2 linked regions of the Homo sapiens genome follow. The protein of the gene in region 1 interacts with the protein of each later gene in a biochemical or structural test. Each region holds a gene or a part of one and is shown in the gene's direction. Other genes may lie near its edges.

Region 1 (5,327 bases):
AGTTCTGTAGAGATAGGGGTCTCACTATGTTGCCCATGCTGGTTTTCAACAGCTGGGTCTGGAGGCCCACCTCAGACTCCCAAAGTGCTGGGCCCTGGTGCATGTTTTAGAGTCAGGCTACCTTGACTTGAATTTCAGCTCCACTGTTCACTAGTTGTGTAACCTGGAACAAGTTACTTAAGACTTAGTTCTTTGTCATGGAAATGAATTTGACCATAATCCCTACATCCACAGGACTTGTGAGTATTAAATAGATGATGACTGTAAGGCCCTTAAATGCAATACTATTGTTGCATATGTGTTTACTTTTTAAGAAAAATATATACCACATTAGCAGTGCTTACTTTTGGGAAAAGGATTGGGAGTGAGGATTGTGTCTGGTGGTGGGGAGGGAGTCAGCTACCTTTTTTACTCATTTTTTCTATCACAGTTGAAAATGTATAGCTAAAAGACTGACTAGCATTGAACACATTGGGTATATATTCAAGAGAACTGAAAACGTGCTCATATAAAAACTTGTACACAAATACCGATAACAGCATTATTAATAGCCAAAAAGTGGAAACGACTGCAGATGCTCATTAATCAGAGTAGATAAAATGTGTATCTCTATACAATGGAATATTGTTTGGCAATAAAAAGGAATGAAATGCTGATACATGCTACAACATAGGTGAACCTTGAAAACATTGTAATAAGTGAAAGAAGCCAGACATGAGAAGAGGACACATATTTTATGATTCCATTTATATGCAATGTTCAGAATAGGCAAATCTATAGAGACAGAAAGTAGACTAGTGGTTGTCCAAGTTGGGGGGCTTGGGAAATGGAGAGTGACTACAGATGGGTATGGAGTTTCCTTTTGGGGTGGTGAAAATGTTCTGGAATTAGGTAATGGTGGTGTGTTAAAACCACTGAATCAAACACTTTAAAACAGTAAATTCTTTTTTTGAGACGAGGTCTTGCTCTGTTGCCCAGGCTGGAATGCAGTGGCGTGCGATCATGGCTCTCTGCAGCCTTGACCTCGGGCTAATATGATCTTCCCACCTCACTCTCCTGAGTATCTGGGACCACAGGCGTGCACCACCACACCCAGCTAAGTTATTTGTTTGAGACAGAGTCTTACTCTGTCTCCCAGGCTGGAGAGTGCAGTGGCGCGATCTTGGCACACTGGAACCTCTACCTCCTGGGTTCAAGTGATTCTCCTGCCTCAGCCTCCTGTGTAGCTGGCATTACAGGTGTGCGCCATCACACCCGGCTAATTTTTTTTCATTTTCAGTAGAGACAGGGTTTCGCCATGTTGGCCAGGCTGGTCTCAAACTCCTGACCTCAAGTGATCTGCCCGCCTCAGCCTCCCAAAGTGCTCGGATTACAGGCATGAGCCACAGTGCCCGGTGTGAAAAGTAGGATTTTATGGGCATAAGTTGGGACAGGATACAAATTGGGAAAATAATGAAAACCTGTTTATATTGGGGTGTCTTTGTACCTAACTTAATGATAAGGTTCAGATGCAGATTAACCAAAGTTCCATCCAGTTGTGAGGCAGGATCAATCCCAGCCATTCACAGTGTTAGAGGAATATCTAAAATGTAATTATTTAACAGTAAGCAGTTTGGTAGCCTGCCATATAAGAATGAGTAATTTTCGGCCGGACACGGTGGCTCATGCCTGTAATCCCAGCACTTTGGGAGGCTGAGGTGGGCGGATCACTTGAGGTCAGGCGTTTGAGGCCAGCCGGGCCAACGTGGTGAAACCCTGTCTCTACTAAAAATACAAAAAAATTAGCCGGCCATGGTGGCACGCTCCTGTAATCCCAGCTACACAGGAGGCGGAGGCAGGAGAATCTCTTGAACCAGGAGGCAGAGGTTGCAGTGAGCTGAGATTGCACCACTGTACTCTCCGTCTCAAAAAAAAATGGGTAATTTTCTTCTTTTCTTTTTTTTGAGATGTAGTCGCGCTCTGTTGCCCAGGCCAGAGTGCAGTGGCGCAGTCTCGGCTCACTGCAACCTCCACCTCTCAGGTTCAAGCGATTCTTCTGCCTTGGCCTCCCAAGTAGCTGGGACTACAGGTGCGTGCCACCATACCTGGCTAGTTTTTGTATTTTTAGTAGAGACGGGATTTCACCATATTGGCCAGGCTGGTCTCGAACTCCCGATCTCGTGATCTGCCCGCCTTGGCCTCCCAAAGTGTTGGGATTATAGGCGGGAGCCACCGCACCCAGTCTAATTATTTTCTTTAGAGGAACTGGTTATTATTTAGTCAAAACTTGCTATCAAAATAGTTTTTCATCCAAGTTTAATGATAAAAATAACAGATATCCATTGTCTGTTTTCTGTCTTGTCTGCTTTTACAGTGCCTCAATTTCCTAACAAATCATATTATCATATTTTCTTTCTACTAACACCATAGCACATAACTCTGAGTCTGTTTCTGCCTTTCTTCTTTTGTTTGATTGTATTATTGTTTTTCAAGATAGGGTCTTGCTCTGCCGCCCAGGCTGGAGTGCAGTGGCACTATCTCAGCTCACTGCAACCTCCACCTCCCAGGGTCAGGAGATCCTCCTACCTTGGCCTCCCAAGTAGCTGGGACTGCAGGCGTGCACCACTGTACCCAGCTTTGCCATATTGCCCAGGCTAGTATCAAACTCCTGGGCTCAAGCGATCCACCCCTGTTGACCTCCCAAAGTGTTGGGATTACAGGCATGAGCCGCACCCAGTTTGTTTCTTCCTGCCTTTCTTTTTTTTTTTTTCTTTTTTGGAGACAGGGTCTTGCTTTCTTGCCCAGGCTGAAGTGCAGTGATGTGATCTTGCCTCTCTGCAACCTCTGCCTCCCAGGTTCCAGTGATTCTCTTGCCTCAGCCTCCCAGATAGCTGGGATTATAGGCATGCACCACCACATCCAGCTAATTTTTTGTATTTGTAGTAGAGATGGGGTTCTCTATGTTGCCCAGGCTGGTCTCGAACTCCTGGGCTCAAGCAGTCCGCCTGCTTTGTCCTCCCAAAATGCTGGAATTACTGGAGTGAGCCACAGTGCCCGGCCTGCCTTTCTTTTATAGATATACATACTATAACTAGGACAGAAGTTCCCAGAAATTTTTAGTTGAGGACCTCTCAACAATTAAAATTTTCACCACTATGATCCTGTTGTCATTAGTATCTAGTATTTGTCATATTACATGAACAGCTATGGATTTTTATTACACTTATGTCCTCTTAAGGATAAGTCCATAAAATTTAAAGGGCCAGGCAACACACATAGGGTTCATCTTTTCCCTGAAACTTATCCCAAAGGGAAAAAAATACATATATTTCCAGTAGGAGATTTTAGATTTAGTGTTTTACTTGATTATGACAAATGTGAGGTAAGCAGACCTCAATAAGCCTTTCTTTGGCACAAGTCACTATACTGCTTGAGTTTACGTACAGGTGAATTGTTTTATGTAAATCTATTTTTAGTGATTTCAAACTTAATGAATTGGAATATTTTAGAATGTGAAACCTTGTGCTTCAGATATTTAGCCTGCAATGTATCAATTAGGTTAGATCATGTTATCAGCTATTGAGTAGTATAAGACATCAGGCTTGTATTTGATACTACTTTTACTCAGGTGAAAAGATACTGGGCTGGGCGCGATGGCTCATGCATGTAATCCCAGCACTTTGGGAGGCTGAGACAGGTGGATCATTTGAGGTCTTGAGTTCAAGGCTAGCCTGGCCAACATGGTGAAACCCAGTCTCTACTAAAAATACAAAAGTTAGCCAGGTGATAATGGCATACGCCTGTAATCCCAGCTACTCTGGAGGCTGAGGCAGGAGAATTGCTTGAGCCTGGGAGGCGGAGGTTGCGGTGAGCTGAGATCACGCCACTGCACTCGTCTGGGTGAGACCCTGTCTCAAAAAAAAAAAAAAAAAAAAGATGCCTGAAACTCACTGTACAGTGAGGAACTCCAGACATGGAAGAACTTGACATGGACCTAGAGAAAAAGCAGACACAGAATATGGGCTATCAAGGAGAGATCCAGAGCTATATACATGAAGAACCTAAGAAGTTATTAAAAATCTGTTAGTTTTCACTTTCAATCCCTGGACTTTTTGAAGTCAGTTTTTAAAAATTGAATTTGCTTTTCATCATTTCATCACTTGATGACTCAGTCTTTCAGACCGTGTTTGGTTTTTGTTGTTGTTGTTGTTGTTGTTTGAGGTGGAGTTTCCCTCTGTTGCCTAGGCTGGAGTGCAGTGGTGCAGTCTCGGCTCACTGTACCCTCTGCCTCCTGGTTTCAAGTGATTCTCCCACCTCAGCCTCCTGAGTAGCTGGGATTACAGGCATGTACCACCATGCCCAGCTAAATTTTTTGTTTTTGGGTGTTTTTTTTTTTTTTTTTTTTTTGAGATGGAGTTTCACTCTTTTTGCCCAGGCTGGAGTGCAACGGCGCAATCTTGGCTCACCACAGCCTCCGCCTCCCGGGTTCAAGCAATTCTCCTGCCTCAGCCTCCGGAGTAGCTGGGATTACAGGCATGTGCCACCACGCCCGGCTAATTTTGTATTTTTAGTAGAGACGGGGTTTCACCATGTTGATCAGGCTGGTCTTGAACTCTCGACCTCAGGTGATCCACCTGCCTCGGCCTCCCAAAGTGCTGGGATTACAGGCATGAGCCACCGCGCCTGGCCTTTTTTGTATTTTTAGTAGAGACAGGGTTTCACCATGTTAGGCTGGTCTCAAACTCCTGACCTTAAATGATCCACCTGCCCCCGCCTCCCAAAGTGCCGGGATTATAGGCATGAGCCACTGCACCCAGCCGACCATGCTTGCTTTACAAAGCAAGTGATATGTAATATAAAATATAAATTGGATGGTTTGGAGAGTCCATGTAAGCAACTGATGGACTTCATTTACTGTTATCGGAAAACATTAGATGTGGCCGGGCGTGGTGGCGCACACCTATAATCTCAGCACTTTGGGAGGCCAAGGCAGGCAGATCATCTGAGGTCAGGAGTTCAAGACCAGCCTGGCCAACGTGGCGAAACTCCATCTCTACTAAAAATACAAAAATTAGCTGGGCATGGTAGCACGTGCCTGTAATCCCAGCTACTTGGGAGGCTGAGGCGGGAGAATCGCTTAAACATGGGCAGTTGAGGTTGCAGTGAACCAAGATCATGCCACTGCATTCCAGCCTGGGTGACAGAGTGAAACTCTATCTCAAAAAAAAAAAGAAAACATTAGATGTTTTAGGCTGTCCTCTCCTGTTTCTTAAAACATTAAAATCATTTGGAAAAAACAAACATGAAGCTTTCCAATTATTCAACTTACCGTGTATTTTTAATGTATC
Region 2 (4,141 bases), on another chromosome or scaffold:
GCTAATAGCTTGTATATTTACTTTCAGTCCTCCCCTGCACTGCCCTGATGTACTAGTCTGTTGACTACCATAATTTCCCTAGCCATTCTTCTAAGGTTGAGTAGTTACTTAGTCTTATTTTAGTAGTTATCCCTTCTCTTTCACACCATTCCCCTTCTCCCCAACTCCTACCCCCTATGCCTTCTTAGTTCCCACCCTTACGATATTCTGGCTTATCAGACCCTGTTTTAAACCATAGTGAGTTTGTGCTTTTTTCTTATTTAAATGTATTTTTTAGGGAGTGATATGGAGCTGGACTTGTTAGCAGCAGCTGAAACAGAAAGTGATAGTGAAAGTAACCACAGCAACCAAGATAATGCTAGTGGGCGCAGAAGCGTTGTCACTGCAGCAACTGCTGGTTCAGAAGCAGGTATGTTGCCTTATCCCAACTACTTTCTTGCTTATGCTAAGGCTGTGTGTGTGTATTCAGCGTGGATTGGGTCATACTTTGTGTGATATACGCAAGGGTAGCTAAGCATTTTTATAACTTCATCCTTGTTCTCTGGGTATTAGAAAAGAAAGTATTATTTTAATAACTCTTTCTCCAGCTTTTCTGGTCATTAAATAATGAATGAATTTTAAAGTTTCTTTAAAAGATTTTTATTTTCTTGCCTTTTTTTTTTTTTTTTTTTTTTTTAAATTGGGTCTCATTCTGTCACCAGGCTGGATATTCCAGTGGTGCAGTCAGAGCTCTTTGCAGCCTTGACCTCCTGAGCTCCTACCTCAGCCCCCTGAGTAGCTGGGTCTACTAGGTGCAAGCCACCACATCGGGCTAATTTTTTTTTTTAAAGAGTTGGGATCTTACTGTGTTGCCCAGGCTGGTCTTGAGCTCCTGAGCTCAAGCAGTCCTCCCACCTCAGCCTCCTCAGTTGTTGGGATTATAGGCATGTGCCACCACACCCAGCTAAAAGTTACTTATTCAGGAGGCTGAGGCATACAAATAGCTTGAACCCAGGAGGCAGAGGCTGCAGTGAGCCGACATGGTGCCACTGCAGTCCTGCCTGAGCCACAGAGCTGGGCTTGAAAGTTATTTTCTAATAAAAACTATTTTATGGTAGGTTTTGTGGATTATTGAATACAATCTGGCATTCTGTTTAATATGTATGTTTTCCTGAATGAGGGGGTACATTGTAATTTTAATTATTAAACTCACAATGTTTTTGGTTTTAAAAATAAAAATTTTAGGAGCAAGCAGTGTTCCTGCCTTCTTTTCTGAAGATGATTCTCAATCGAATGACTCAAGTGATTCTGATAGCAGTAGTAGTCAGAGTGACGACATAGAACAGGAGACCTTTATGCTTGATGAGCCATTAGAAAGAACCACAAATAGCTCCCATGCCAATGGTGCTGCCCAAGCTCCCCGTTCAATGCAGTGGGCTGTCCGCAACACCCAGCATCAGCGAGCAGCCAGTACAGCCCCTTCCAGTACATCTACACCAGCAGGCAAGTCTGAAAACTTAGTATTGCTAAGAATACTTAGATAGATTTTTTAAATTATGCATGTTCATCTGGGGATAAAATTAGTTTTATGATAGTTCCTCATTGTTTTGTTGAGTTTCAAATATAAAAAATATGTACATATGATTATAGCAGGGTTTCCCAGTCTTTGCATTATTGCATCTTTGGACTGGGTAATTGTGGGAGGCTGTCTTGTGCATTGTGGGATGTTAGGCAGCATCCCTAGCCTACACCCACTAGATGCCAGTGAAACCCCTCTCACCCTTCTTCCCCTCCCCTTGGCTCCCACAGTTGTGATAACCAAGAATGTCTGTAGATACTGCCAAATGTGTAGCCCCTTTGGCGGGGGGAGGTGGCGTGGGGGTCAGATTTCCCCTGGTTGAGAACTTTATATTAATTCTTGTCCCCTCCATACTCCTCTCCCCAAAATAGTGTGGTTTAGGCAAAGTTTTTTGCTTGGGTACCACAATTGACCATTTAGATTTACGTAAGTATATATAATCCCAGAGAAACACAATTAGCAACTGACATTAGCTCATTGTGGTTGTCCTTTTTCCTTATAGCAAGTTCAGCGGGTTTGATTTATATTGATCCTTCAAACTTACGCCGGAGTGGTACCATCAGTACAAGTGCTGCAGCTGCAGCAGCTGCTTTGGAAGCTAGCAACGCCAGCAGTTACCTAACATCTGCAAGCAGTTTAGCCAGGGCTTACAGCATTGTCATTAGACAAATCTCGGACTTGATGGGCCTTATTCCTAAGTATAATCACCTAGTATACTCTCAGATTCCAGCAGCTGTGAAATTGACTTACCAAGATGCAGTAAACTTACAGGTATGAAACCACTGAAAAGTTTCCCATTCCACTATTTTTTTTTGGCTGTCAATTATGAGAATTCCAGTATTAGGGGAATTAAATGTTAGAAACGTTTACATATTGACATACTGCTGCTGTATCGAATTTAGCTCTATTTGGATAGTTTTAACTATTTTAGTTTGGTCTTCATAGAACTATGTAGAAGAAAAGCTTATTCCCACTTGGAACTGGATGGTCAGTATTATGGATTCTACTGAAGCTCAATTACGTTATGGTTCTGCATTAGCATCTGCTGGTGATCCTGGACATCCAAATCATCCTCTTCACGCTTCTCAGAATTCAGCGAGAAGAGAGAGGATGACTGCGCGAGAAGAAGCTAGCTTACGAACACTTGAAGGCAGACGGTATGAAATTCTTCATATATACAGAACGTCCCCAACTTAAAATGGATCCTCAACTTACAATTTTTTGTTTGTTTGTTTGTTTGTTTTTTTGAGACGGAGTCTCACACTCTTACCCAGGCTGGAGTGCAGTGGTGCCGTCTCGGCTCACTGCAAGCTCCGCCTCCTGGGTTCATGCCATTCTCCTGCCCCAGCCTCCCGAGTAGCTGGGACTACAGGCACTTGCCACCCACGCCCGGCTAATTTTTTGTTTTCTTAGTAGAGACGGGGTTTCACTGTGTTAGCCATGGTGGTCTTGATCTCCTGACCTTGTGATCTGCCCACCCTGGCCTCCCAAAGTGCTGGGATTACAGGCGTGAGCCACAGCGCCCGACCCCCAACTTACATTTTTTTTTTGACTTTGTGATGGGTTTATTGGGGGTATTAAATGCGTTTAGACTTTATGCGTTTATGATGAGTTTATCAGGACATAACCACATCTTCAGTCAAGGAGTATCTATACTTGCATGTTTAGATAGAATCTTTGTATCCTAGAAGGTTAAAGCTTTTTAGTTGCTATTATGTAAGACCTCATCTTACTGTGAAGGGAGAAAGAAATGACTTGCTTGCATTACTTAAATTGTTGAGGCAGAATAGGCTAGTTATCATCCAAGCTGTTTTTAAAAATCCATTCATATCGTAGGAATCTGATACTAAAGCCTTTTTATTTTTGAAGTTATTGGTCTATATCTTTGTCTCATTATCCCCAAGACCTCCCCCTCTCCTCTTAGGAAGTTATTTTGACTATAATTGGTTATGAATGTACTTTGTACTCAGGAGGGGGAAAGTATGTGTGATTACCAGTGCTGCTCTTTTTTTCTCAAATCACATTTCTTTTTTTCTGCCTCCCCTAGTCTGTTGAATTAAAATAAAATATATATCTATGTATTTGTTATGTTCTTTCTATTCAGTTATAAAGTGACCTTTTTCAGGAGTAGGTATCAGCTCAAATATTGAACATCAGAGCAATAGCAGTAATATAGTAAAAGTGCCTCATACCTGAAGTCAAAATCCAAGGATTTGGTTCTGTCTCTACCTCAGGATAAACAACTTTGTTACTCTGGGCAGATCATAAAGTGAGGAAAGACAAAGGTCTAAGAGATTACTTAGAAAGACAGTGATAGGCATCTACAGTAGAGGTAATAGTTACTAAAGTAGGGCAGTGAAGACCAAAAGGAGGGGAGAGAAGCATTGAAATAAAAAACAGAATTTAGGGCCTTGTTGAGGGATTAAGTAGCAGGGGCATCATTTATATTTAAACCTTGATCCTGAGTAACTAATAGGAAAATTAAAGAGAAAAACCTAAGAGTAGTATAATGGACAAACTTGCTTTTGAACATGTGAGAACTGGGGGAAAAAAAATGGTAGAAATGTCAAATGTGCAGAATTG

What was found. The genes of interacting proteins can lie anywhere in the genome.
Region 2: the proteins of PAIP2 (region 1) and UBR5 form a complex in vitro, tested with the Homo sapiens proteins (2 studies listed by BioGRID and IntAct, with this or other methods).

The regions. Positions count from the first base shown.
Region 1 is NC_000005.10:139,358,042-139,363,368, forward strand, and holds part of PAIP2 (polyadenylate-binding protein-interacting protein 2), read left to right. Parts: intron 1-5,327. UniProt on the Homo sapiens protein: Acts as a repressor in the regulation of translation initiation of poly(A)-containing mRNAs. Its inhibitory activity on translation is mediated via its action on PABPC1.
Region 2 is NC_000008.11:102,283,701-102,287,841, reverse strand, and holds part of UBR5 (E3 ubiquitin-protein ligase UBR5), read left to right. Parts: intron 1-277; coding exon 278-409; intron 410-1,224; coding exon 1,225-1,482; intron 1,483-2,060; coding exon 2,061-2,329; intron 2,330-2,503; coding exon 2,504-2,715; intron 2,716-4,141. UniProt on the Homo sapiens protein: E3 ubiquitin-protein ligase involved in different protein quality control pathways in the cytoplasm and nucleus. Mainly acts as a ubiquitin chain elongator that extends pre-ubiquitinated substrates.